5 separate regions of the Homo sapiens genome follow, and regions 2, 3, 4 and 5 are each linked to region 1. The links come from fine-mapping of genetic effects on plasma protein levels. A gene starts in region 1. Each other region holds a variant in brackets. All regions are shown on one strand. Distances are from middle to middle. Region 1 holds the start of PLAU (plasminogen activator, urokinase). Region 2 has its middle 3.9 kb from the start of MICU1. Region 3 overlaps CFAP70 (cilia and flagella associated protein 70). Region 4 holds the start of C10orf55 (chromosome 10 putative open reading frame 55). Region 5 has its middle 15 kb from the start of C10orf55.

Evidence for each region. PIP is the chance, under the fine-mapping model, that this variant and not a neighbour inherited with it causes the effect. Protein levels are from antibody-based Olink assays in UK Biobank. Linkage for the fine-mapping came from a reference panel and not from the study's own genotypes, which makes the PIPs less certain.
Region 2: its variant is fine-mapped to the plasma level of the PLAU protein (UK Biobank, PIP above 0.99).
Region 3: its variant is fine-mapped to the plasma level of the PLAU protein (UK Biobank, PIP above 0.99).
Region 4: its variant is fine-mapped to the plasma level of the PLAU protein (UK Biobank, PIP above 0.99).
Region 5: its variant is fine-mapped to the plasma level of the PLAU protein (UK Biobank, PIP 0.94).

Annotation. Positions count from the first base shown.
Region 1 is chr10:73,907,994-73,913,096 of GRCh38, forward strand. PLAU (plasminogen activator, urokinase) reads left to right here and starts at 3,139. Exons shown (of 11, transcript NM_002658.6): 1 at 3,139-3,225; 2 at 3,532-3,619; 3 at 4,048-4,075; 4 at 4,222-4,329; 5 at 4,931-5,103. The coding sequence starts at 3,563. It overlaps C10orf55 (chromosome 10 putative open reading frame 55), which reads right to left. Exons shown (of 5, transcript NR_160938.1): 3 at 5,050-5,082; 4 at 4,207-4,291; 5 at 1,976-4,102. RefSeq lists enhancers at 615-1,814, 1,170-2,120, 1,370-1,419, 5,038-5,103 and a silencer at 3,086-3,685.
Region 2 is chr10:72,627,475-72,632,577 of GRCh38, forward strand. No RefSeq gene overlaps it. Among named protein-coding and RNA genes, the nearest start is that of MICU1, 3.9 kb to the left of the region's middle. The variant T/C (reference allele first, on the strand shown) is at 2,396.
Region 3 is chr10:73,340,757-73,345,859 of GRCh38, forward strand. It overlaps CFAP70 (cilia and flagella associated protein 70), which reads right to left. Exons shown (of 28, transcript NM_001367801.1): 6 at 4,309-4,488; 7 at 643-825. Among named protein-coding and RNA genes, the nearest start is that of CFAP70, 16 kb to the right of the region's middle. The variant G/A (reference allele first, on the strand shown) is at 2,181.
Region 4 is chr10:73,918,880-73,923,982 of GRCh38, forward strand. It overlaps C10orf55 (chromosome 10 putative open reading frame 55), which reads right to left and starts at 3,898. Exons shown (of 5, transcript NR_160938.1): 1 at 3,754-3,898. RefSeq lists enhancers at 1,293-1,941, 1,942-2,588. The variant G/A (reference allele first, on the strand shown) is at 3,005.
Region 5 is chr10:73,935,046-73,940,148 of GRCh38, forward strand. No RefSeq gene overlaps it. Among named protein-coding and RNA genes, the nearest start is that of C10orf55, 15 kb to the left of the region's middle. The variant G/A (reference allele first, on the strand shown) is at 2,889.

The sequences.
Region 1 (5,103 bases):
TCCAGCAGTCTGTGTTGCCACATCTGACTCAGGAGCTCTGTACCCTTGAGACACAGAGGCAGGGGTTGGTGGCTTCACCCTAGGAGTCAGGAAAAGAATGAAATCATACACATTCAGTTCCTTATTCTCTTACCCTCAACAGAAATTTCAGACAGCCTAGACCACAGAGACAGTTCTTGGAATTCAGGCAAACAACTAATTTGTATTACAGCGGGTGCAACTTAAGAGCTCAGAGTCCATAGTCCGAGCAGTCTTTCTGGAAGGAGGTCTCCAAAGTCAGGAGGAGGGCTCCCCTGAGCTGGATCATCTTAGCTCACTGGCCCCTCCCTTCACAGCGTTCTGTCTTTTATGGAGACAGTGAGGTATAGCGCATAGGAACAAGGATCAGAAGACGCTGGGTTTTAGTGCTGGCTTTGCTGCTCATCAACTGTGTATCTTCTCTCCACTTCATTTTCCATATCTGCAAAATGGGAACAACAATACCAGTCTATATCATAAGGCAGTTATGAGTTTAAAGAGAAATGGTTTACATTAATGTGCCTTGAAGCACAAGACAGAAATACAATATAAAAAATATGGCTGGGGCCGGGCACGGTGGCTCACGCCTGTAATCCCAGCACTTTGGGAGGCCGAGGTGGGCGGATCACAAGGTCAGGAGATCGAGACCATCCTGGCTAACACGGTGAAACCCCATCTCTACTAAAAATACAAAAAATTAGCCGGGTGTGGTGGCAGGCGCCTGTAGTCCCAGCTAGTCGGTAGGCTGAGGCAGGAGAATGGCGTGAACCCGGGAGGCGGAGCTTGCAGTGAGCCGAGATTGTGCCACTGCACTCCAGCCTGGGTGACAGACCGAGACTCCGTCTCAAAAAAAAAAAAAAAAAAATATGGCTGGGCGTGGTGGCTCATGCCTGTAATCCCAGCACTTTGGAAGGATGAGGTGGGAGGACCCCTTGAACCCAGAAGCCCAGCAAAACCTTGTCTTTAAAAAAAAAAAAGAACTGTGCACAAAGATTTCAGAGAGTGCTAAAGATTAGCGCATGGATAAGGAAGTTCTGTGAAGAGTTGAAGTGCTAGGTGAAGAGGTGGCACGGGGGAGGAGGGGGCGGAAGGGGAGAAAGGGTGTCACGCTTCATAACGGTCTCCAAACCTCTTTGTCCAGGAGGAAATGAAGTCATCTGCTCTCAGCAATCAGCATGACAGCCTCCAGCCAAGTAATCTGGAGTCATGAGAGCTGCTAGGGGAGCAACATGAATCATGACGGTCCCTGGGAATTTCCTGATAACTAACCTGGGAGTTTCGGGGTAAGTCCTCAGGCTGCAGCATCTCTGTTTATGTTCTGGTCACGTTTATTTACAATTAATGGGTTCTCAAATCCAAACAAAACTGACCACAGTCTTCTAGAGGAAGTAGCAAGGTTGGCTCTGAAGCCTATAGCATCGCTGACTCAGTCTGTCCCCTGGAAGGCTGGCAGCTCAGCAAGCACAGAAGTCTCTCCAGAAGACAGTGGGTCACCTGCCTCCCAAAAGCTGAAAGGCTAACTTGTACTTTCCCCAGCAGGCAGCTGGCACCCTGAGCCCTCGGCTGGGGCAGAGCAAAGGAGCCTTCCTCCTTCCTACCTTCCTGGCACTCTCCCTGCCTTCCTTCTGTCACTCTCAGGTGGACCCAGACCCAAGGTCCAGATTTGCAAGGCAGGAAAATGCTGCAGGCCTAGGCTGGGAAAGGGCCCAAAGCCGCTAGTGGATTGCTGGGACTCAGCCTCCTCCTTCCCACTAAGAGAGCGAGTCCTACTGGGTTCAAAATGACCCCAAGCCCTGGTTCCTGACACTAGGGGAAAGAGATGGGGGTGACAGAATCACAGAATCCCTGCTATGTTCCTCCAAGTGTGCCCAGAGATGCGTGTGTGTGTGTGTGTGTATACACAAATGTCTGCTTATCCTCAGGCAGGAAGGGTGGATGCAGTCATTTACACATGGTCTGTTTTTCTGGAGGACAATTTTATTTGATAAACAATTGTTTCTATCTGAATAGAATAAACAAGGCTCTATGATGAAGTAAAACACTAAATACACATGCATTAAAAAATGCATAATTATCTTTTTGGAATGGGCTATACAGAGATGTGCTTTTTAAAATGTTAAGAGTGTAAAAGGACAAACAGTGAAAAATAAATCTTCCTCTTATTTTGTCCTCCAGTCTCCCAATTCCTCTACTCAGAGGTGAGAACAGAACTTCCACACCCTCCAGAACCTCCACAGTTAGAACTGTCTACATGTTTCCATTGTCTTTACTTTTATTCTTGCCTGCACAAATAAATGAATTGCTCATTATGGAAACTTCCCAAAAGACCCGTTAACACTTCAATAGGAAGCACCAACAGTTTATGCCCTAGGACTTTGTTCCCACAATCCTGTAACATCATATCACGACACCTAACCCAATCCTTATCAAGCCCTGTCAAAAACGGACTTTAAACCAAGCTGCAAATTTTCAGTAATCTGGCCTTGCCTTTCCCCCTCTGATAGCACCATCAAACAAACCCCCTTACTGCCGAAAGCAATAAGCCCGGCTTTGTTCCATCCACTGGTTGTGTTGGTGATATCTGGGGACTGCCACTGAACAGACGCACAGAGGGAGCCCCTACAGGCAGGGGTTTTTCTGTCTGTGCTTCTGGGAGAGTATGTCTCGTACATTTGTCGCGTTGATGAAGACTTCACAGCTCCATCAGCTGCGGGCAAGGGGGTCTGAGGCAGTCTTAGGCAAGTTGGGGCCCAGCGGGGAGAAGTTGCAGAAGAACTGATTAGAGGACCCCAGGAGGCTTCAGAGCTGGGCGAGGTAGAGAGTCTCCTGTGCGCCTTCTCTCCTCTCTGCAATTCGGGGACTCCTTGCACTGGGGCAGGCCCCCGGCCAGGTGCATGGGAGGAAGCACGGAGAATTTACAAGCCTCTCGATTCCTCAGTCCAGACGCTGTTGGGTCCCCTCCGCTGGAGATCGCGCTTCCCCCAAATCTTTGTGAGCGTTGCGGAAGCACGCGGGGTCCGGGTCGCTGAGCGCTGCAAGACAGGGGAGGGAGCCGGGCGGGAGAGGGAGGGGCGGCGCCGGGGCGGGCCCTGATATAGAGCAGGCGCCGCGGGTCGCAGCACAGTGCGGAGACCGCAGCCCCGGAGCCCGGGCCAGGGTCCACCTGTCCCCGCAGCGCCGGCTCGCGCCCTCCTGCCGCAGCCACCGGTGAGTGCCGCGGTCCTGAGATCCCCGGGCCGGATGCGCGGCGGCCCCAGCTCCCGAGCGTCTGCCTCCCCCGCCCTGGGCTGCCCGGGCTCCCTGGGCTCCCCGGCGGCTGCACGGAGTCAAGGCGCCCCGTCCCGGGCGTCCCCCGCGGGTGCCGATCCAGGCTGCCCGGAGTCCGGAGCCCAGAGAGGAGAGAGACAGCTGGGGAGCCTGGTCACCGCGGGCATCTCCCCTGCGCTGCAGTCGCCCGCCTGGCCTGCCTTCCCGTTCCTCCGCCTCTTGCCCTGACTTCTCCTTCCTTTGCAGAGCCGCCGTCTAGCGCCCCGACCTCGCCACCATGAGAGCCCTGCTGGCGCGCCTGCTTCTCTGCGTCCTGGTCGTGAGCGACTCCAAAGTGAGTGCGCTCTTGCTTTGACTGATGCTGCCCAAGGACCTCTGATCAGCACCAGGGGAGAGGAGGGGCTGCTCAGGGAGCTGGGGTCCTCCGGATTCCATCCACAGCAGGGCCAGACTCTCCCCAGGAAATGGGACAGGGTGGCAGCGGAGGCTTGAGAACCACGGGGGTTGGCACTGGCTGGCAAGGGAGGAAGAGGCCGCCGGGACTGCCCCAGCCTGCGGGCATCTGGTAGATGAAGCTTGCTTGGGTCAATCCATTTCTCCTGGCTGGAAACCCATGGTCTTCCATTTGAGAACTAGATACGAACAGGGTGAGGCGAGAGGGAGAGGGAAGAGTGGGTTTTGGGATTGGGGCCAGTTTACCCTCACCCTGGAGTCCCTGGAGCATGGGACCTTTGATGAAGCCTCCTCCCGAATCTCTTCCAGGGCAGCAATGAACTTCATCAAGTTCCATGTGAGTATCCACCCCTACAACAGTTGGCTGCACAGACAAGTTGGGAAGGCTTCAGGGGACATCCCCTCCCTGCCCTCTGCTGCAGGGCTGCGCCACCCCTTACCACTTCCACTCCCCCTCGCTTACCCCACCTTTGTTCTCTCCAGCGAACTGTGACTGTCTAAATGGAGGAACATGTGTGTCCAACAAGTACTTCTCCAACATTCACTGGTGCAACTGCCCAAAGAAATTCGGAGGGCAGCACTGTGAAATAGGTATGGGGATCTCCACTGCAACTGGGAGAGAAATTTGGGGACAGGGAGGGATGGGTGGGAGGCAAGAGCAGGCAGGAGTTAGGAGCTGGAGGTAGGGTGGGTGACATCTTCATCCCTATGTGACAAGCATAAACACACACACACGCTCACGAAACAGTGGCCACACAAATGTGAGGTGGGGTTGGAAGGAGACCCTGTCCAGTCTTCTGGCAGGTCTGAAACGACATCTTTAAAATGTCCGTTGGCAGCCGGGCATGGTGGCTCACGCTTGTAATCCCAGCATTTTGAGAGGTCAAGGTGAGTGGATCATTTGAGGTCAGGAGTTCAAGACCAGCCTGGACAACATGGTGTAACCCTGCCTCTACTAAAAATGCAAAAATCAGCCTGGCATGGTAGTGGATGCCTGTAGTCCCAGCTACTTGGGAGGCTGAGGCAGGAGAATTGCTTGAACCTGGGAGGCAGAGATCTCAGTGAGCTGAGATCACACCACTGCACTCCAACTGGGCGACAGAGCAAGACTCCATCTCAAAAAAAAAAAATAAAAGTTAGTTGGAATGTTCTTCTCTTTCTCATATTCTCTCATCCTCCTGTCCCCTTGTAGATAAGTCAAAAACCTGCTATGAGGGGAATGGTCACTTTTACCGAGGAAAGGCCAGCACTGACACCATGGGCCGGCCCTGCCTGCCCTGGAACTCTGCCACTGTCCTTCAGCAAACGTACCATGCCCACAGATCTGATGCTCTTCAGCTGGGCCTGGGGAAACATAATTACTGC
Region 2 (5,103 bases), 1.3 Mb before region 1:
AACAACCATGGAAACAAAGCCAACAAAACCATCCCTGGGGTAAATTGTGAAGTAAGCAGAATCAACTCTGTTTTCTCCATTTCTTCTCAGACCCAACTAACCTAAGTACAATAGATGATTGTGTTCATGGCTCTGTGCTAGCGCTTTACATACAACCCAGTGCTTGTCTACAACCACTCTAGGATGGATACTGTTTTATTCATTTGCAGATAGGGAAGCAGGCTGACACCCCTAGGTAATGCAGTACATGCAGTAGCGGGACATAGACCTGACCTGAAGGCCTCTGAGGCTTCCACTCTTAAATGATGTAATTCAGGCCGGGCGCGGTGGCTCACGCCTGTAATCCCAGCACTTTGGGAGGCTGAGGCGGGCGGGTCAGGAGATCGAGACCATCCTGGCTAACACGGTGAAACCCTGTCTCTACTAAAAATACAAAAAATTAGCCAGGCGTGGTGGCGGGCGCCTGTAGTCCCAGCTACTCGGGAGGCTGAGACAGGAGAATGGCAGGAACCCGGGAGGCAGAGCTTGCAGTAAGCCAAGATCGTGCCACTGCACTCCAGCCTGGGCGACAAAGCGAGACTCCGTCTCAAAAAAAGAAAGAAAGATTTGCTGAAATTCAATTCTAATTTTAGGCAACATTTGTCTATATAAAACTAATCAGTCAAACTAACTGTTAAATAACATTTAAAAACATAAATCATTGTTTCTCAAACGTTTTGGTCTTAGGACCCCTATACACTTAAAAATTATTGAGGACTCAAAATAACTTTTATTTATGTGTGTTATACCTATCGATATTTACCATATTCGGCCAGGCAGAGGCTAATACCTATAATCTCAGCATTTTGAGAGACTGAGATGGGATGATCACGTGAGGCTAGGACTTTGAGGCTACAGTGAGCTATGATCATGCCACTGCACTCCAGCCTGCGCAACAGCGCAAGAACCTGTCTCTATAAACTTTTTTTAATTTAGCATATGAGGACTTAAAATTGAGGCCGGGTACAATGGCACCCAGCACTTTGGGAGGCAGAGGCGGCAGATCACCTGAGGTCATGAGTTCGAGACCATCTTGGCCAACATGGTGAAACCCTATCTCTACTAAAAATACAAAAATTAGCCAGGCATGGTGGCACACGCCTGTAATCCCAGCTACTCAGGAGGCTGAGGTAGGAGAATCGCCTGAATCCGGTAGACAGAGGTTGCAGTGAGCCAGGATCATGCCACTGCACTCCAGCCTAGGCCTCAGTGACAGAGCAAGACTCAGTCTCAAAAAAAAAAAAGAGAAAAGAAAGAAAATTAAAATTGAAATTATTTTAATGTGTACTTAGTCATTTAAAAATAATAGATCCATTATATGTTGACATAAATAATGTATTCTTAAGAAAAACAACTTCAAAAAAAAAGAGTAGCATGGTTTTACATTATTGCAAATTTCTTTTCTTTTTTTTTGAGACAGAGTCTCACTGTGTCGCCCAGGCTGGAGTGCAGTGGCACGATCTCGGCTCACTGCAACCTCTGCTTCCCGGTTTCAAGTGATTCTCCTGCCTCAGCCTCCTGAGTAGCTGGGATTACAGGCGCATGCCACCACGCCCGGCTAATTTTTTTGTATTTTTAGTAGAGACGGGGTTTCACCATGTTGATCAGGCCGGTCTCAAACCCCTGACCTCGTGATCCGCCCACATCGTCCTCCCAAAGTACTGGGATTACAGGCATGAGCCACTGTGCCCGGCTGCAAATTTCTTTAATGTCTGGCTTAATAGAAGACAGATTCTTGTATCTTTTCTGCATTAAATGTTTGCACTCTTACACTTCATGTAGCCTCTGGCAAACTCTACTATATACTCAAGAAAGAATTAGAGCGATAAGGCAAATAACAGTGTATTAGTAAGAAAACAGTCTTGACCTTACAGATTACTAGAAAGGGTTTCAGGAAACCTCCAGTGGTCTTTGACCACACTTTGAGAACCACTGTTTTAAACCATACAAATGTTAAATGCTATTGTATATTTTGTCTAGTCATTTTGGCATCAAGTAGAACATTTAATGGAAAGGAGAACAAGACAGAGACAATTTACAGACTAGGCCAATCTTATACAAATAAATATGAGATGTGAGTATTCTTTCTTCATTTCTTTTTTTTTTTCTTTTTTTGAGACGGAGTCTTGCTGTGTCACCCAGGCTAGAGTGCAGTGGCACAATCTTGGCTCACTGCAACCTCCACCTCCCAGGTTCAAGTGATTCTCCTGCCTCAGCCTCCTGAGTAGCTGGGATTACAGGCATGCGCCACCATGCCTGGCTAATTTTTGTGTTTTTAGTAGAGATGGGGTTTCACCATTTTGGCCAGGCTGGTCTCGAACTCCTGACCTCGTGATCCACCCGCCTCAGCCTCCCA[T/C]AATGCTTGGATTACAGGCGTGAGCCACCGCATCTAGCTCCTTCTTCATTTCCAAGAGTATAGAGTAAGTTAGCAGAATTCAAGGTCATAACCAAACACAGCTATATTCTACATTAGAAATCTGTCCATCAATTCAGTATTGTTTTTCAGGATGCTATGCAATGTGTTCCGAGTCATATAAATGTATGATATCACTAATCAAGGTTTATATCTCCTGTACAAACTAATAATAAGACTCCTCTGGTGACCAATAAAATTTGAAGTCAAAATTCTTTCACAGACATATATTGAATACCTACATATTAATATATGTAATGCTCACAACTAGTGCTGGGCTTGTAAAAATTTATAAGCTCGATTCCTGCCCTTGGGCAACTTGTATCTATAATGAGACTTGCACCACCGTAAAAATGTATTTTTTAACAAGTTCAGTAGTTCCCAAACCAGTCTGGTGATCAAATGCCTGGGAATTATCTGAGGAGATTTTTAAAATACAGATTCTTGGATCATGAGACACACTGCTTCAGTGAACCAGGGTGATGCTCTGGAATCTGGATTTTAAAAGTCCCAGGTGATTCCCCTGCAATGATAGGATTGGGAATGAATACTAAGTCCTGTATACTTGACAAATAGATTTGATCTTTGCCCCCAGGACTATCATACTATCATATGCAAAATATAATGTTTATTTATTTCATCTTCAGTATTTCAAAAGTGTGTTGTGTTGAAAGATCTGTGTTATCAAGGGACAGTATTTAATGTCATTCACTAAAAATAGAAATTGGTGTCCTTATGTCATACATTTTATAGTTCATCTATTCTTATCACATTAAAATAATATGTGTTACCACAGCAGTCTCCAACATATCACACCACTGTAAAAAACAAAAACATCTTTTGCAACAAGTATCAGACTACAAAAAGTTTATTTTCTAAAGCTTTCATTCAGTTTCTTTAAAATGAATTCAATGAGATGGTCTTTGTTTTATTACACTTATCTTCAGGGTTCCATAGATTATGGTATCTCAAAACCTATGCAGTCGTCCATCACAAACTCCTTTTGAATATATATATCAGAGACAGAGACAGAGAAACAAAGAGACAGAGAGTCTTAGAGTCTTACTCTGTCGCCCAGGCTGGAATGCAGTGCACCATCTCAGCTCACTGCAGCCTCAACCTCCCAGGCTCAAGTGATCCTCCCGCCTCAGCCTCCTGAGTAGCTGAGACTACAGGTGCAAACCACCAGCCCTGGCTAATTTTTTGTAATTTTTGTAGAGACAACATATCACTATGTTGCCCGGGCTGGTCTCGAACTCCTTGGCTCAAGAGATCCACCCACCTTGGCCTCCCAAAGTGCTGAGATTACAGGTGTGAGCCACCACACCCAACCTTTTTGAAGTTATATTGTACTTGAGTAGCTATCTAGAGACTTATGACCCATAGTTGTTCTTGCAGTGAGTATTCTTCTCTAATACTTATAGCCAGAATTAATTATGTTCAAATAAATATGAAAAAAATTTTAAAAAAGCTTAAATGTTTCCTGGCTTTTTACCACTAGGAGGTGGGAGGATGGCATAAATATGATGATTTATAAAAATTGACATATTCTCCTTGATTTTATGATTGAAACTAACTTCAAAATTAAAGAATCTCTGCCCAGATCTTGATTTCTGAACTACCTTTCTCCACAAAAAGGAACTAAGTCTTCTTGAAAACAGGGCTGGTTTCAAGTCTACAGCAGGAATGTACAAGATGACCTGGAACATCTTGTTGTGTCCAAAAGTAAGGAAGCAATCAGAAAATAAAATGAGGACATGTCAAAGGGAGCCAGCTTGAAGGCCCATCACTGGCCAAATCTGGGATAATTGGAGTACCAGCATAAGAACAGTAATAAGTGGCTGGGCGGGATGGCTCACGCCTGTAATCCCAGCACTTTGGGAGGCCGAGGCGGGCATATCACAAGGTTAAGAGATTGAGACCATCCTGGCCAACATGGTGAAACCGTGTCTGTACTAAAAAAATACAAAAGTTAGCTGAGTGTGGTGGTGCGTGCCTGTAGTCCCAGCTACTCGGGAGGCTGAGGCAGGAGAATCGTTTGAACCCAGGAGGCAGAGGTTGCAGTGAGCCAAGATCACACCACTACACTCCAGGCTGGCAACAGAGCCAGACTGTCTCAAAAGAAAAAAAAAAAAAGAACAGTAGTAAGTTACAGCCACTGAATAAAATAAGAATCCAACAATCTATATTAAGGAGAGAAAGAGAAATGGGGAAATCAGACAGTGGCTTTCCTTAAAGTAGACTACTTGCTGATAAATCCAAAGAGAGTGGTGGAGTTGGGAAAACCACCATTTTGCAACTATCATGGTAAAGATTGGTTTGGGCAAACATTATCAGTTAAATCCGGCAGGGGTTGGGCAGGGAATTTTATGAGAAGCAGGGTATTTTTATGTTTCAAAGCATCTCCCCACAGATTTTATATTTTTTACAAAAGGAAATGGTAACTATATAACAGAAACTATGCAACACTTTGATCCCTATGATATAGTACTCTGAGAAGAACACAATATCACTTGAATCTGATCATGAGGAAATATCAACCAAACCCATATTGAGGAGCATTCTGTGAAATAACCATCATGAAAGGAAAAAAATGGCAGAGGAACTAACTATTCCATATTAAAAGAGACTAAGGAGACTTGACCAAAAAA
Region 3 (5,103 bases), 570 kb before region 1:
GCACCAGGCTTGGCCACAGCTTTGCTCCAAAATTGGAGCAGGCACCAGGAGTAGGCAGAGGCCAGGCAGCAGGAGCAGGCACTTCCAAGCCTGTGGGGGCAGGAGGGCTTCCCAGCTTCCAAGAGTGCAGAGATGCCTGGGTATGCAGCTGTGGTTGGGCAGCTGCAGCTGCACATGGGAGGGCACTTGTTCCCAGCTCCCACCAGCTCCATGGAGCGTGTAGGCCCAGTCAGGACTCCCCCACTGCAGCCAGCATCATGGCAGGAGCTGCTCCAGACTGGCCACTGCTGCCATCACTACTAGGGTAATGAGATGGGGAGGAATTAGAAGGAAGAGACATGACTAGAGGGACACTTTCACTGCATACATCTTCATTTTTAATTTTGACAGTAACTGATAATTACCTATTCATAAATCAGTAAATTTAAAATAAAATAAAGAGTACATGTGATATAAATTATTTTGTTTTCTGGACTTAAGAAGCCAGAAGATATTTGAATCAGAATTAGATATGTGTTTTATTTTGGCATGTAAGTATTTCGACAGGTGACAAATGTATATAAATTACAGTAATTCACAAAATGTTTTATCATCTGTCAGTACACTAAGTTTATCACAAAAACCTGTATATCAGGCTCTCACCTCAGGATGGTTGAGTTCTCCTTCTTCTTCTTCATAGGGACCACCAACAATGAATGCATCAGGAATGTTATTAGCTCCTGGAGCCAGAATGTTGGCAATTGGCCACTTTTTGGGCCGGGGAACAGGTTCCCTTTCCCCTCCAAGCTTCAGAGTTCCATTCTTAAATAAAATGGGATAGTCCTTCTACAGAAATAGATACCATATGTCAGGAAAATTTGTAAAGGACTTTGAAATGGACAAGAAGATTATTCAAGTGTCTTTTCAATGGAATGCTGAGTGTTATCAAACATACCCCTCTACGATTAATCTGATTCTAGAGAGGGGCCTGTGCCCTTCATTCCCTTTGTGCTATTTTACAACTCTGTAACTTATAGACATTTGATAATAATGCAAATTATTCTTGTTCATAAATATGCAGATACAGTTTGTCCAGTGGCAATGTAACTGATTATTTCCCTGAAGCTAATGACAAATTTTGAATTATTGGCAAATTCATTTCAGCATTCCTGATGCCTATATACTCCTTTGAACTCATTGTCACATTTTACTGATTCCCTCATTAATTAGTTAAATAAAATCTTGGACCAAATTCTGTGTTATTTATATTTATATGAGAGTTGTGCTTATACCTGTTTAAAAATTATCCTTTAGAAAACGAACTAAAATCTGGCAAGGGGCTAAAAATATAGGCATTTTCATGTCTTATAACTTATCCAAAGTATACTTGCAGTAGAAAATTGGTAAAATATATAAGTAGGCAATTTATAGAAGGGGAAATTAGAACATCCAACATTTAAACAAAAACATGCTATGTTTCATTAATAATCAGTAAAGTGCACATTAAAACAATGAGATATCAGCCAGGCAAGGTGGCTTAATGCCTATAATCCCACTTTGGGAGATAGAGCCAGGAGGATCACTTGAAGCCAGGAGCTTGAAACCAGCCTGGGCAACATAGTGAGACCCCCATCTCTACAAAAAAAAAAAATTAAAAATTAGCTAGATGCAATGGCATGCACCTGTAATCCCAGCTACGTGGGAGGCTGAGGTGAGAGGATTGCTTGAGTCCAGAAGTTCAAGGTTACTGTAATCTATGATTGTGCCACTGCACTCCAGCCTAGGTGATGGAGTGAGACCCTGTCTCTTATTAATAGATAGATAGATAGAGAGATATATAGATAGATAAAGAACAGGAACAAGAAGTTTACTGGAAAAGATAAATAAATGGCCCTTAAATTAAAAGGAAGTTCTATTTCCAACACTATAGCAAACTAAAGTACAACAGAGCCTTCATCAGCAACAAACACAACAAACTAGATAAAGTAGAATAGCAACAACAAAAAAAGAGTTATATTTTATCACATAGCCAAGGTCAAAAGAAGTAAATGAAAGTCTAGTCCAGTCACGGTGGCTCACACCTGTAATCCCAGCACTGTGGGAGGCCGAGGCGGGCGGATCACAAGGTCAGGAGTTCGAGACCATCCTGGCCAATATGGTGAAACCCCATCTCTACTAAAAATACAAAAATTAAGCCGGGC[G/A]CAGTGGCTCACGCCTGTAATCCCAGCACTTTGGGAGGCCGAGGTGGGCGGATCACAAGGTCAGGAGATCGAGACCATCCTGGCTAATACGGTGAAACCCCATCTCTACTAAAAATACAAAAAATTAGCCGGGCCTGGTGGCGGGTGCCTGTAGTCCCAGCTACTCGGGAGGCTGAGGCAGGAGAATCACTTGAACCCAGAAGGCAGAGGGTGCAGTGTGCCGAGATCGCACCACTGCACTCCAGCCTGGGTGACAGAGCGAGATTCCGTCTCAAAAAAAAAAAAAAAAAGAGAAAGAAAAAGAAAGTCTAAAAGTGCCAGAACTGGCAGCAGCAGCAACTCAGTACCCAAGGGATAAGCTCATGAGCTGATGCTGCGCCAACCCAGGAAATGTCAGACCCAGACACTATTATAGAGAAGCAATCATGGCCCCATGCTCAGGCAGGACGGGAAGCTGGAACTAAGACTACTGCATAAAACTAGGACCTGGGGCTGGGTGTGGTGGCTCACACCTGTAATCCCAGCACTTTGGGAGGCTGAGACATGCGGATCACCTGAGGTCAGGAGTTCAAGACCAGCCTGGCCAACATGGTGAAACCCCCTCTCTACTAAAATACAAAAAATTAGCTGGGCGTGGTAGTGGGCACCTGTAGTTCCAGCTACTCAGGAGGCTGAGTCAGGAGAATTGCTTGAACCCGGGAGGCACAGGGTGGAGTGAGCTGAGATCATGCCACTGCACTCTAGCCTGGGCGACAGAGTGAGACTCCATCTCCATCTCCAAAAGCAAAGCAAAAAAGAATTCTAGGACCTGGTAGGGCAACCTTTCATAAAACATCAGAATAAAGGAGCCCTTTTCAAGTTTAAAATGATGTAAGAAACCTAAAAGAAAAAGATTTAACTATTAAAAAACTTTTGTGTACCAAAGCAATGACCCAAATTAAAAATAAATAATAAACCAGAAATAAATATGATAAACTATAAATTGACAAACTTGAAAGAAAATATTATTTTTCTCTACATATGAAGAATTTTTTTTTTTTTTGAGATGGCGTTTCACTCGTTGCCCAGGCTGGAGTACAATCTTGGCGCAATCTTGGCTCACTGCAACCTCTGCCTCCCAGGTTTAAGTGGTTCTCCTGCCTCAGCCTCCCCAGTAGCTGGGATTACAGGCACCCACCACCATACCCAGCTAATTTTTTGTATTTTTAGTAGAGACAGGGTTTCACCATGTTGGCCAGGCTGGTCTCGAACTCCTAACCTCAGTTGATCTACCTGCCTCAGCCTCCCAAAGTGCTGGGATTACAGGCGTGAGCCACTGCACCCCAGCCAGAATTTAATACATCAGCAAGAAAAATACTAAGCCCTCCAGGAGAAAAAAAATAAAAGACACTTTTAATTATCAAAATTAGCAAAAACAAAGAGAAAATTTTCAATACAATCTCAAAGTTGGAGAGAGGGCAATGCACAGATCTGCCTCATATAACTATGTGGGCTGTTCCCCGGAAGGGTGATCAGCCATCTCATTTGCCTAGGACTGTCCCAGTTGTGGTGCTGAAAGTCCCATGTCCCAGGAACCTCCTAAGTCCTCAGCAAACTGAACAGTTGCTACACAACTTTAGTGGGTCATCCACATACATGGCCCTGGAAATAAGATAAGTGGAAGTGTTAACTGAATAGAAGAAGCCTTTTAGCAAGCAAGTTAGAAATCTCCATCAAGAGCCTAAGAAACTCCATATCCAATCATTCCTATACCTAGAAATTTGGCCTAAGAAAATAATCTGGAATTAAGAGAAAGTTTTGTTTAATAAAGCACGTTGCACAAAATCTGCAAAATGTACACATAAAAATAATCTGTATAGAAATACACCAAAATTGGCCATTTTAAATCTTACATATTTTCCACCATATATTTATATAAATTATATTTAATGCATAATATATAATATGTAAATTATAAACATTAAGATCTGTATATAAAATAGAAATAAACTGTATTTTTCAAGCCTAAAATAAATCTCAGCTATTAGCAGTGCAATGCTTTGAATGAAATCTTAGAGGTGAGGAAGAGATGGCCATATGAGTACAGACATGTTTGAATCTCTATAAATATCTGGCAGTAGGGCTTTACCTCTCCAAGTGATGGAACTTGCAGACCGACCATGTAGTTCTGCCCAGGACCTGTTGGAATGAAGGATTCAGGCACAGAGTAAGCAGCCTCCAACGTGACCTTCAGTAGATTGCCCCCTGAGATCTGGGCTGTGGTCAGTAAAGGCTCTGCCACTAATACTTTAACTTCAAGACTGCACTGCTGTAAAAGAATAAAATTATGCAGCATTTTGAAAATTGCCAGAGATCTTCCTTTTTTGCATTATCTCATTTGAATCTCATATTACTGTTCAAGATAAGAAGGTAAAGCTTAATTATTTCCATAAGTTGAAACCATGTTCTCTAAGTCCCATGAGTTGGAGATAGAGCCAAGAAGAGAATCTTAACCCTAAACTAGATCCCTTCCCACTCTATCATACTGAGGTAAAGTATATATATAAATACATATAAAACAGGAATTGTAAGATTCTGTTGAAATGTTGGCCAGGCATGATGGCTCACTCCTGTAATCCCAGCACTTTGGGAGCCAAGGCAGGTGGATCACCTGATATCAGGGGTTCAAGACCAGCCTGGCCAACACAGTGAAAACCCATCTCTACTAAAAATACCAAAATTAGCCAGGCATGGTGGTGCGCGCCTGTAGTCCCAGCTGCTGGGGAGGCTGAGGCAGGAGAATCGCTTGAACCCAGGGAGGCAGTGAGCTGAGATTGTGCCATTGCACTCTAGCCTGGTCAACAAGAGCAAAACTCCATCTCAAAAAAAACAAAAGAAATGTCGATAGAAGTTGCACATGAGTAAGTGAGATTGGGTGCTTTTT
Region 4 (5,103 bases), 11 kb after region 1:
ACCTACACTCCACCTGTAGAGATTGTGATTCAGGTCAGGGCTGGCTCCAGGTCTCGTGGTTTTAGAAAAGCTCCCTCGGTGTTACTAACATGCACCACTGATTGACAGCCTTTGGGGACAATTGGTCAGAATATATGAAGTGCCCAGAAAAATTCAAGATATGGTCAGCATGAGTTCTCTGCATGAACAGCCAGTTTTCTGAGTGGGGTTTGGTGGCACAAGGTCTCCTGGATTTCCTGGTTAAAGGCTTTCTGGACCGTGCTTCCCTAGAGGGCAAGAACTCCAAGTATTTGGCTTTTTCTTTTTTTTGAGGCAGGGTCTCACTCTGTCACCCAGGCTGGAGTGCAGTGGCGCAATCTTAGCTCACTGCAGCTTCTGCCTCCCAGGTTCAAGCGATTCTCCTGCCTCAGCCTCCCAAGTAGCTGGGATTACAAGCATGCACTACCACTACCCGGCTCATTTTTGTGTTTTTGGTAGAGATGGGGTTTCACCCTGTTGGCCAGGCTGGTCTCGAACTCCCGACCTCAGGTGATCTGCCTCCCTTGGTCTCCCAAAGTACTGGGATTAGTATTCGGCTTTTGATCCCCATCATCTAGTGTGCTGTTTTACACAGGTTGATGCAGTGGTTTAGAGCATGGATTTTCGAGTCCGGTGGCCTGAACTAGAATCTAACACCAGCTGTGTGACTTGAGAAAGGTTATTAGCCTCTCTGCACCTCAGTTTCCTCATCTGTACAAAAGAGATGATACAATCTACCTCCCTGGGTTGTTATAAGGATTCATGAAGGCCAGACACAGTGGCTCAGCCTGTAATCCCAGTGCTTCGGGAGGCCAAGGTGGGCGGATCACCTGAGGCCAGGAATTCGAGACCAGCCTGACCAACAAGGTGAAACCCTGTCTCCACTAAAAAAAAAAAAATACAAAAATTAGCCAGGCGTGGTGGCATATGCCTGTAATCCCAGCTACTCGGGAGTCTGAGGCACGAGAATTGCTTGAAACTGGGAGGTGGAATTTGCAGTGAGCCGAGATCACACCACTGCACTCTATCCTGGGCAACAGAGAGCAAGACTTCGTCTCAACAACAACAACAACAACAGAAAGGATTCATGAGTTCATAAGTCCTTTAGCATAATACTGGCACCTAATAAAAGCATAAAAACGGTGGTTATTATTACAAAGCTAAGTAAATTATTGTAGCATCAGATCAGATGGGAACCCTCTGCCCTCTCCCACCTCAGAACTGCACTATTTTGCGGGAGTGGAAACCTGCTAGGAAGCTGCCCAAGCCGAGTGGCTGTTCAGTTTCTGCCTTCCCCTCAGGGGCCAAGAAAGATCTTGTTCAAACTTGAGCAGCTCCAGCATCAGGGCTCAGAGACACTGAAAACAGGAAGTATGAGCCCTACTGGCAGGGTTAAGCCAGGAGGCTGTTAACAATTTTCAGGCCATTTCCCAGCCAACACCCTGACCCCCAGCCAGCTGCTGTCTCTTTGCCTAATATTAGATCTCACCCCAGGCTAGCAGGCATCAGCCGCTTCTCCAGCAACCAGTTTCACAGTTCCAGATTCTCACTCCAGAGACTGCCTCCTATTAGTGCCTCCACGATCAAGCACTGTGCTTTTTCTGTTTTTGCTTTTGTTTTTTTTTTTTTTGAGATGGAGTATCGCTCTGTCGCCCAGGCTGGAGTGCAGTGGTGTGATCTCGGCTCACTGCAACCTCCGCCTCCCAGGTTCAAGCGATTCTCCTGCCTCAGCCTCCCGAGTAGCTGGGATTACAGGCGCCCACCACCACGCCCGGCTACTTTTTGTATTGTTTTTAGTAGAGATGGGGTTTCACCATGTTGGCCAGGATGGTCTTGATTTCCTGACTTCGTGATCCGCCTGCCTCGGCCTCCCAGAATGTTGGGATTACAGGCGTGAGCCACCGTGCCCGGCCTTTTTTTTTTTTGTTTGAGATGGAGTCTTGCTCTGTCCCCCAGTTTGGAGTGTAGTGGCTCAATCTCAGCTCACTGTGCAACCTTTGCCTCCCGGGTTCAAGCAGTTCTCCTGCCTCAGCCTCCCGAGTAGCTGAGATTACAGGCGCCCGCCACTACGCCTGGCTAATTTTTTGTACTTTCAATAGAGATGGGGTTTCACCATGTTGGCCGGGTTGGTCTCAAACTCCTAACCTCAAGTGATCAACCCGCCTCAGCCTCCCAAAGTGCTGGGATTACAAGCATGAGCCACCATGCCAGACCAACACTGTGCTAAATTATTCATGTGTTGTCTGAGTTAATCCTCCCAAGAATCCTATGAGGAAGGTAGTATCACTAGCCCCATTTAACAGTAGAGAAAATGGAGGCACAGACAGATTGAGTGACTTGCACGAGGCAATGCAGCTCCAAATGCAAAGAGTCAGGGTTCGAACCCAGGCAGCCATCTCCAGAGTCCTCATGCGCGGTACTAGGATTTATCACCTCTCAGGAGAGTCCAACTAGGGCAAAAGGAGAGCAGCCCCCCTTTCAAGCTTTCTACTTTATGGTTGCTGGGTTTCTAGGCAACAGCTATCAGAATTTTTTTTTTTTTTTTGAGACGGAGTCTCACTCTGTTGCCAGGCTGGAGTGCAGTGGCGTAATCCTGGCTCACTGCAACCTCCGCCTCCCGGGTTCAAGTGATCCTCCTGCCTCAGCCTCCTGAGTAGCTGAGATTACAGGCACATGCCACCACGCCCGGCTAATTTTTGTATTTTTAGTAGAGACGGGGTTTCACCATGTTGGCCAGGATGGTCTCGGTCTCTTGACCTTGTGATCCACCCGCTTTGGGCTCCCAAAGTGCTGGGATTACAGTTGTAAGCCACCCGCCCAGCCCAGAATTTTTTTTTTTTTTTCCATACACAGTCTTGCTCTGTCGCCCAGGTTGGAGTGCAGTGGCCCATCTCGGCTCACTGCAACCTCTGCTTCCCAGGTTCAAGCTATTATCCTGCCTCAGCCTCCTGAGTAGCTGGGATTACAGGCGTGCACCACCACACCC[G/A]GCTAATTTTTGTATTTTTAGTAGAGACGGGGGTTTCACCATGTTGGCCAGGCTGGTCTCAAACTCCTGACCTCGTGGTTCACCCACCTCGGCCTCCCAAAGTGCTGGGATTACAGGCGTGAGCCACTGCGCCCAGCCTCATCTATCAGAATTTTAATCCTCTCCTAGATAACAATTCTTTCCTCCTAGAAGATTCCCAGGCCAGATGAGGAGACCACACTCAGCCATTGGTTTCAAAGTAAAACTTCACTGTTCTCACAGTAACCTCAGCCTTTCTGCTGCAATCTGGTTTCATTGAAGTGGTTTCCGTTTTCACCAGAACCCCTCTTTCTGAAGTATTCTCAGCCCATTATATTAACAGCACTCAGCCTGCTTTCCACGTATGCCCTATCTTTCCCAAGCTGACCACAGCAGCACCCCTGCCTATACCCCTCCATACTCACTCCCATTGGGTCCACCTTCCTTCCAAGAAGGAAACATTTAAGCCCTCCCTTTGAATTAGATGAAGTAAGAGGAGTTGCTGAGGTGTTTTTTAAAAATCAATTCTGGGCTAGGTGCAATGGCTCACACCTGTAATCCTAATACTGTGGGAGGCCTAGACGGGAGGATTGCTTGAGCCCAGGAGCTCGAGGCTGCAGTGAGCTATGATTGCACTACTGCACTCCAGCCTGGGTGACAGAGCAAGACCCTGTCTCTAAAGAAAAAAAATCAGTTTTATTGAGATATAATTCATATATCATACAACTTACCCATTTATTCTTTCTCTTTTCTAGAGACAGGGTCTTGCTCTGTCACCCAGGCTGATCTCAAACTCCTAGGCCAGAGTGATCCTCCCACCTCAGCCTCCTGAGTGGCTGGAATTACAGGCTCATACCACCACGTCTGGCACCATTTGAAGTGTACAATGCAATGGTTTTTAGTAGATTCACAGAATTGTGAGACATCACAATCAATTTTAGAACACTTCATCACCTCACAAAGAAATCCTGTACCCACTCACAATCACTCCGTTTTTCTCCCCAACCCCCTCAGCCCTAGGCAATCACTAATTTACTACTTTCTGTCCTCTCTGTGGGTTTGCCAATTCTGGGCATTTCATATCAATAGAATCCTATAATATGTGGTTCTTTGTGACTGGCCTCTTTCACTCTTAACATGATGTTTTCAAGTTTTATCCATGGCATAGCATGTGTCAGTGAGGTTGCTGAGTTTTAATAACAAATTGAGGGAAAAGATGGTCTAGGCGAGGTGCAGTGGCTCACATCTGTAAATTCCAGCACTTTGGGATACCAAAGTGGGAGGATCCCTTGAGTTCAGGAGTTCCAGAACAGCCTGGGCAACATAAAGAGGCCCCATCTCAAAAAAAAAAAAAAAAAAAAAAGGATGTTCTAGGTCTCTTTTTGAGGTTTCAGTCACATTGAGATTCATTCAACAATCTTTGTCATTTCTTTCTTTCTTTCTTTTTTTTTTTGAGATGGAATCTCGCTCTGTCGCCCAGGCTGGAGTGCAGTGGCGCAATCTCGGCTTACTGCAATCTCTGCCTCCCAGGTTCAAGCAATTCTCTGCCTCAGCCTCCCGAGTAGCTGGGATTACAGGTGCCTGCCACCATGCCCCACTAATTTTTTTCTATTTTTAGTAGAGACGAGGTTTCACCGTCTTGGCCAGGCCGATCTTAAATTCCTGACCTCATGATCCACCTGCTTCGGCCTCCCAAAGTGCTGGGATTACAGGCATGAGCCACTGCGCCCGGCCCTTTGTCATTTTTTTAAAGTACCCATACACAGGACATTATTTTAGATACAAATGAGGCAGTCCTAGTCCTCAAGGAGCTCACCACTTTGCAAAGTGCTATACTAAGTCTGCATAAAATGCATGGAAAAATAATGAAGAAGCAATTGATTCTGCCTGGTGAAGTCAATGACGACTTTACAGAAGAGGTGATATTTTACCTGGACATTCAAATACACACAGAAATTTGCCAAACTAGAAGAAAGGCATTGTAGGCGTAGGGAAGTTCATGGAGGCATGAAAAGGTGAGGTGTTCTAAGGAAATGAGGAATAGTCCATTGTGGTGGAGAACTCTGGGGGGCAATGAGTAG
Region 5 (5,103 bases), 27 kb after region 1:
TAGGTAACTAACATCCTACAATGTAGGATGCTCAAAATATCAACGTCACAACTGAGAAATCCTAGAGAATAAGTTGTAGAGGGCAGGCACAGAGAGGTAGTCAAGGGGTGAGCGTGAGAATTTTGGAAGGGAGTTTTTTCTTTTTTCTTTCTTTTTTTTTTTGAGATGGGGTCTTGCCTGCTTGTTGCCCAGGCTGGAGTGCAGTGCTGCAATCATAGCTCACTGCAGCCTTGAACTCCTGGGCTGGAGCAATCATCCCATGTCAGCCTCTTGAGTAGCTGACAGGTGTGTGCCACCATGCCTGGCTAATTTTTATATTTTTAATAGAGACAACAGGGTCTCACTATGTTGCCCAGGCTGGTCTCAAACTCCTAGGCTCAAGTGATCTACCCACCTTGGCCTCCCAAAAAGAGTGCTGGGATTACAGGTGTGAGCTGCCATGCCCGGGCAGGAAGAGACATTTTTTAAAGGCCTTGTAAATACTGTACTTATAGCAGCAAGAGACAGGAGTCAGCTCCAGTAAAGCCTGGGATGGACACAGCACATCCTTTCCTGACGTTCCTGCTGCTTCCAAGCACCAGCCTTAAGAGCCCAGAGGAAACTGCTAATGAATTTCCCTAGAGTTACCCAGAACTAATTCTGAGGGGTTTCCTGCCACCTCTCAGGTCCGGGACTGTTAAGGGGTACCAGCCAAGATGTCCAACTCCTCACCAGCATATTCTGCCAGACCAGGGCACCCTGCTCTGATCATGCTGAGACATGGGACCCAAGTCCAACACGTTTGGTCAATGCATGATTTCAAAGAATTGTAACATCAGCAGCAGAGAAACTGGAGACCCAAAGAATGGATTCAAATGCTTGTTGCCTGAATCTGCTCTTCTCACAAGTCCCTCAATATTGTACCTGAATATAATACCTTCTCCTGCATCAAGAGAGGACATTAGGTGGGTCCCAGCTGCCTCTTCAGGGATTTAACAGGCTAACCAGGAGCTCTCACTTGTCTTTCTACCTGCAAACTACAGAATGGGTGCAGATCTTTCCAGGAAGCTTATAAAAGCTCACAGGGTGAGGCGAAAGTTGGCTTAGTCTCAGAGATTCATTGTTGTTGGGAACGTAGAGCCCTGAGCGCTTTAAGTCCTGAAAATCTTCTAGTTTCTGATCTTTAGCTCAACTTTTAACTGTTTTCCTCCTGATTTTTGTTTGGCTTTCTGATTTGATTCTCTGGTTTGACATATGTGTCTGTCTTAATTAGGTTTTCCAGCAGGTCATGGCCCTGTCCCGGGCCCATGTAAACCATCAAAGGCTTGCCTCAGTCATCCCTATACCAGCTTCTCACCTTGCCCAGTCTTAGGGCCTGGGATCTAAGAGCCCTCTGGAAGATCTACCCTTTTTCTACATCTGAAAACTCACTATTAGAGAGTTAAAGTCTTCGAAACATTCCATGTTTCCCAAGGGTCCACATGGCAATTTTGTGATATATTTATAGGTAGCAAGTGGAACAAAGGGGTTTGTAGCCAAATAAATTTGGAGAATGTTATGTGAGGTTAGTTTCTTGTCTACAACAAGGCTTAATATGCTTTGAACAGGTTAAACATCCATACAATGAACTTAGTCAGCTCACAATCCAGTACCCAAAACCCTTGGAACCAGATATATTTGGATTTCAGAATATTTCAGGTTTTAATAAGGTAAATGGTGAATATGCTATTTATTCCACTATTTATTCCATTGCACCCAGAAGAGCTGGCAGGCCCTGTAATCAAGCACATACTTCTGCAGCAAAACATATGCATCTTCATACTAAGTAGGCTAAGTAAAAAATCTGAAAAGCCACAACATCATTTTAGGTCAGGTTTTACCCCTAAGTCTTGTTTTGTTTTTTGAGACGGAGTCTTGCTCTGTTGCCCAGGCTGGAGTGCAGTGGTGTGATCTCGGCTCACTGCAACCTTCACCTCCTGGGTTCAAGCGATTCTCCTGTTTCAGCCCCCCTAGTGACTGGGATTATAGACACACACCACCACACTGGGCTAATTTTTGTATTTTTAGTAGACATGGCATTTCACTATGTTGGCCAGGCTGGTCTCAAACTTCTGACCTCAAGTGATCCATCCACATCGGCCTCCCAAAGTACTGGGATTACAGGCATGAGCCATAGCACCCAGCCTGTTATTTTTTAAAACTTAGTTTTTAGCACTTTTTGGACTTCAACCTGATGGATACAGGATGGGGCCGTGTAGATGGTGTTCCCAACATAGATGATCTCAGAACTCCCTCTTCCAGGAGCATCTAGCAGGACAGGTATTTCATGGACTCCAAGGATACCCTCAGCTGTTAGTCTATAACACAGGAGAGTGAACACAGTCGGTCATTCTCACTTTAGCCTTATCCTCTCCCACACCAACTAGATGAGGTGAGGATTCTGACAGCCAAACAAGGAGGAGAAGCTGGAGAGCCTGTGCATGTGTGCAGATGTGGTTGGGGAGTCATGGTTCAGCTGTCAGCTTCTGGTGGAAAAGGGATACCAAAAAGAGCGGCATAGTGGACATCCAGGTTATGGTGGTTTTCTTCTGTGTACACTTCTGTGTTTTTCACATTTCCTTTAGAAATGACGAGCTTTTTCTCCCTTATTGCTGTTTTCTACTGCAGGGAGTTGCTGCTCTTAGTGTTGCAGTGTGGGGAGGTAGGATGGGGCTGACGCAGAGCCTGAGGGCAAGGCAGGGTTCCTGGGAAGATGGATTCCTGTGATTCTGGCCTTGTGCCTCAGCCAGAGCTGAGGTGGGGTGGGGTGTATGCCTAAGGCCAGGGTCCCCTGGGGAAGGAGGAGGATGTTGGATTTCTGGTGGATTTCCAGGAAGACTTCCTGCTCTGACAAAAACAACACAAACACA[G/A]GAAGAGGCTCTGGGGCCTAAGGAGAGGGGATAATGGACCAAGGTGGAGACTTTTGGGGTGGAGGCTGATACAGAGAGCAGCCCAGGAACAGAGAAGCTGCCTCCTCGCTGTCCAACTGTGTTCCCCAAGCCAGCTGAGAGTCTTTCTCTACTGTGGTGGCAAGTTGGGAACTGGAGGAAGAGGCCCAGTAACTTTGGACTCCCTGGCTTCTTCTCCACTTTTCATTGAGTATAATATTTCTTGGTGGCCTGGACCATGAGGATGGGGGTGGAGAGTAGGCAGTGGACTGCGGGGGGGCATTTGGCTAAGGCCTCAGATTATGTAGGGCCTCAGATACAGACCTTAAATGTGTGGGGTCACACACCTGTCAGAGCTACATTCAGCCTCACTGTGCGGGATCAGGTGAAGACATGCATCCTAAACTTGCTACCATTACCAGCCCTATGGTGTGCTGTAAACTCATTATCTTCATATGGCTTGTGAATTGCTCTGTTATGTTGCATTATATATGTATATATACACATATGTGTGTATGGGACTCTGTGTGTGTGTTTGTTGTAAACCAAAAATAAAAATCTAAGGCTACCCCCACCATCTGAAGAGACTCCCTCCTCTTGGCCAGGCCACTCCAAAGTTAACCTGAACAACTGTTTTCAGGCCATGAGGGGAAGTGGGGGTTGGACCTGCCTCATAATGCCCTCCTGCCTTTTGGAATTCAGGAAAAGCTGACCAGCATTAACAACAACATAGACCTTAAGTCTGATAAATAACCTTTACAATCTATTCTCTCCTGAAGCCTGCTATCTGGAGGCTTCATTTGCATGATAAAACTTTGGTCTCCATAACCTCTTATCATAACCTAGATATTTCATTCTAGTGATAACTCTTTTAACCATTGCCAATGAGAATTTTGTTTGTTTGTTTGAGATGGAGTCTTGAGTGCAGGCTGGAATGCAGTGGTGCAATCTTGGCTCACTGCAACCTCCGCCTCCCAGCTTCAAATGATTCTCCTGCCTCAGCCTCCTGAGTAGCTAGGATTACAGGTGCCTGCCACTACGCCCGGCTAATTTTTGTATTTTTTAGTAGAGACAGGGTTTTGCCATGTTGGCCAGGCTGGTCTCAAACTCCTGACCTCAGATGATCTGCCCACCTCAGCCTACCGAAGTGCTGGGATTACAGGCATGAGCCACTGCACCCGGCCTAGAAAATTTTTTAATCTACCTATAATCTTGAAGGCTCTGTACCCCATTCCCCATTTTGAGTTGTCCCCCCTTTCTGGATCTAACCAATGTACATCTTAAATGTGTTGACTGATGTCTCATGCCTCCCTAAAATGTATAAAACCAAGCTGTGCCCCTACCACCTTGGGCACATGTTCTCAGGGTCTCCTGAGGGCTGTATCACAAGCTATGGTCACCCATATTTGGCTCAGAATAAATCTCTTCAAATATTTTACACAGTTTGACTCTTTTCGTCAACTCTCTCTCTCTCTCTGCGTGTGTGTGTGTGTGTGTGTGTGTGTGTGTGTGCCACCACACCCGGCCAACATTTTTAAAAATAATAATAAATAAAAAAAATAATAAAATAATAAAACGGGGCCAGGCGCGGTGGCTCACGCCTGTAATCCCAGCAATTTGGGAGGCGGACGCAGGAAGATCGCTTAAGCCCAGGAGTTCGAGACCAGCCTAGGCAACAAAGTGAGACTTTCTCTCTACAAAAAATACAAAATACAGCTTTGGGCATTTTTTCTTTTTTTGAGATAGGGCCTGGCTTTGTCACCCAGGCTGGAGTGCAGTGGGTCATCACCACTCACTGCAGCCTGGACCTACTGGGCTGAAGTGATCCTCCCACCTCAGCCTCCCAAGTAGCTGAGACTACAGGCATGCGCCACCATGCCCAGCTAATTTTTGTATTTTTTGTGGAGATGGTGTCTCATTTTGTTGCCCAGGTTGGTCTCGAACCCCCGAACTCAAGTGATCCTCCTGCCTCAGCCTCCCCAAGTGCTGAGATTATAGGCGTGAGCCACCATGCCTGGCTTTCTTTTACTCATTTATTTATTTATTTGGGTGTGGGGGTCACAGCTTTGACTTGCTAAGTATACACATTTGAGATATACCACACTTTCAGTAACTTTGTTTTGGCATTAAAAATCTGTATCTATCTATATCTAGAGCTTTGAAAGGGAAGTAATAAACATTTTTTTTTTTTTTGAGA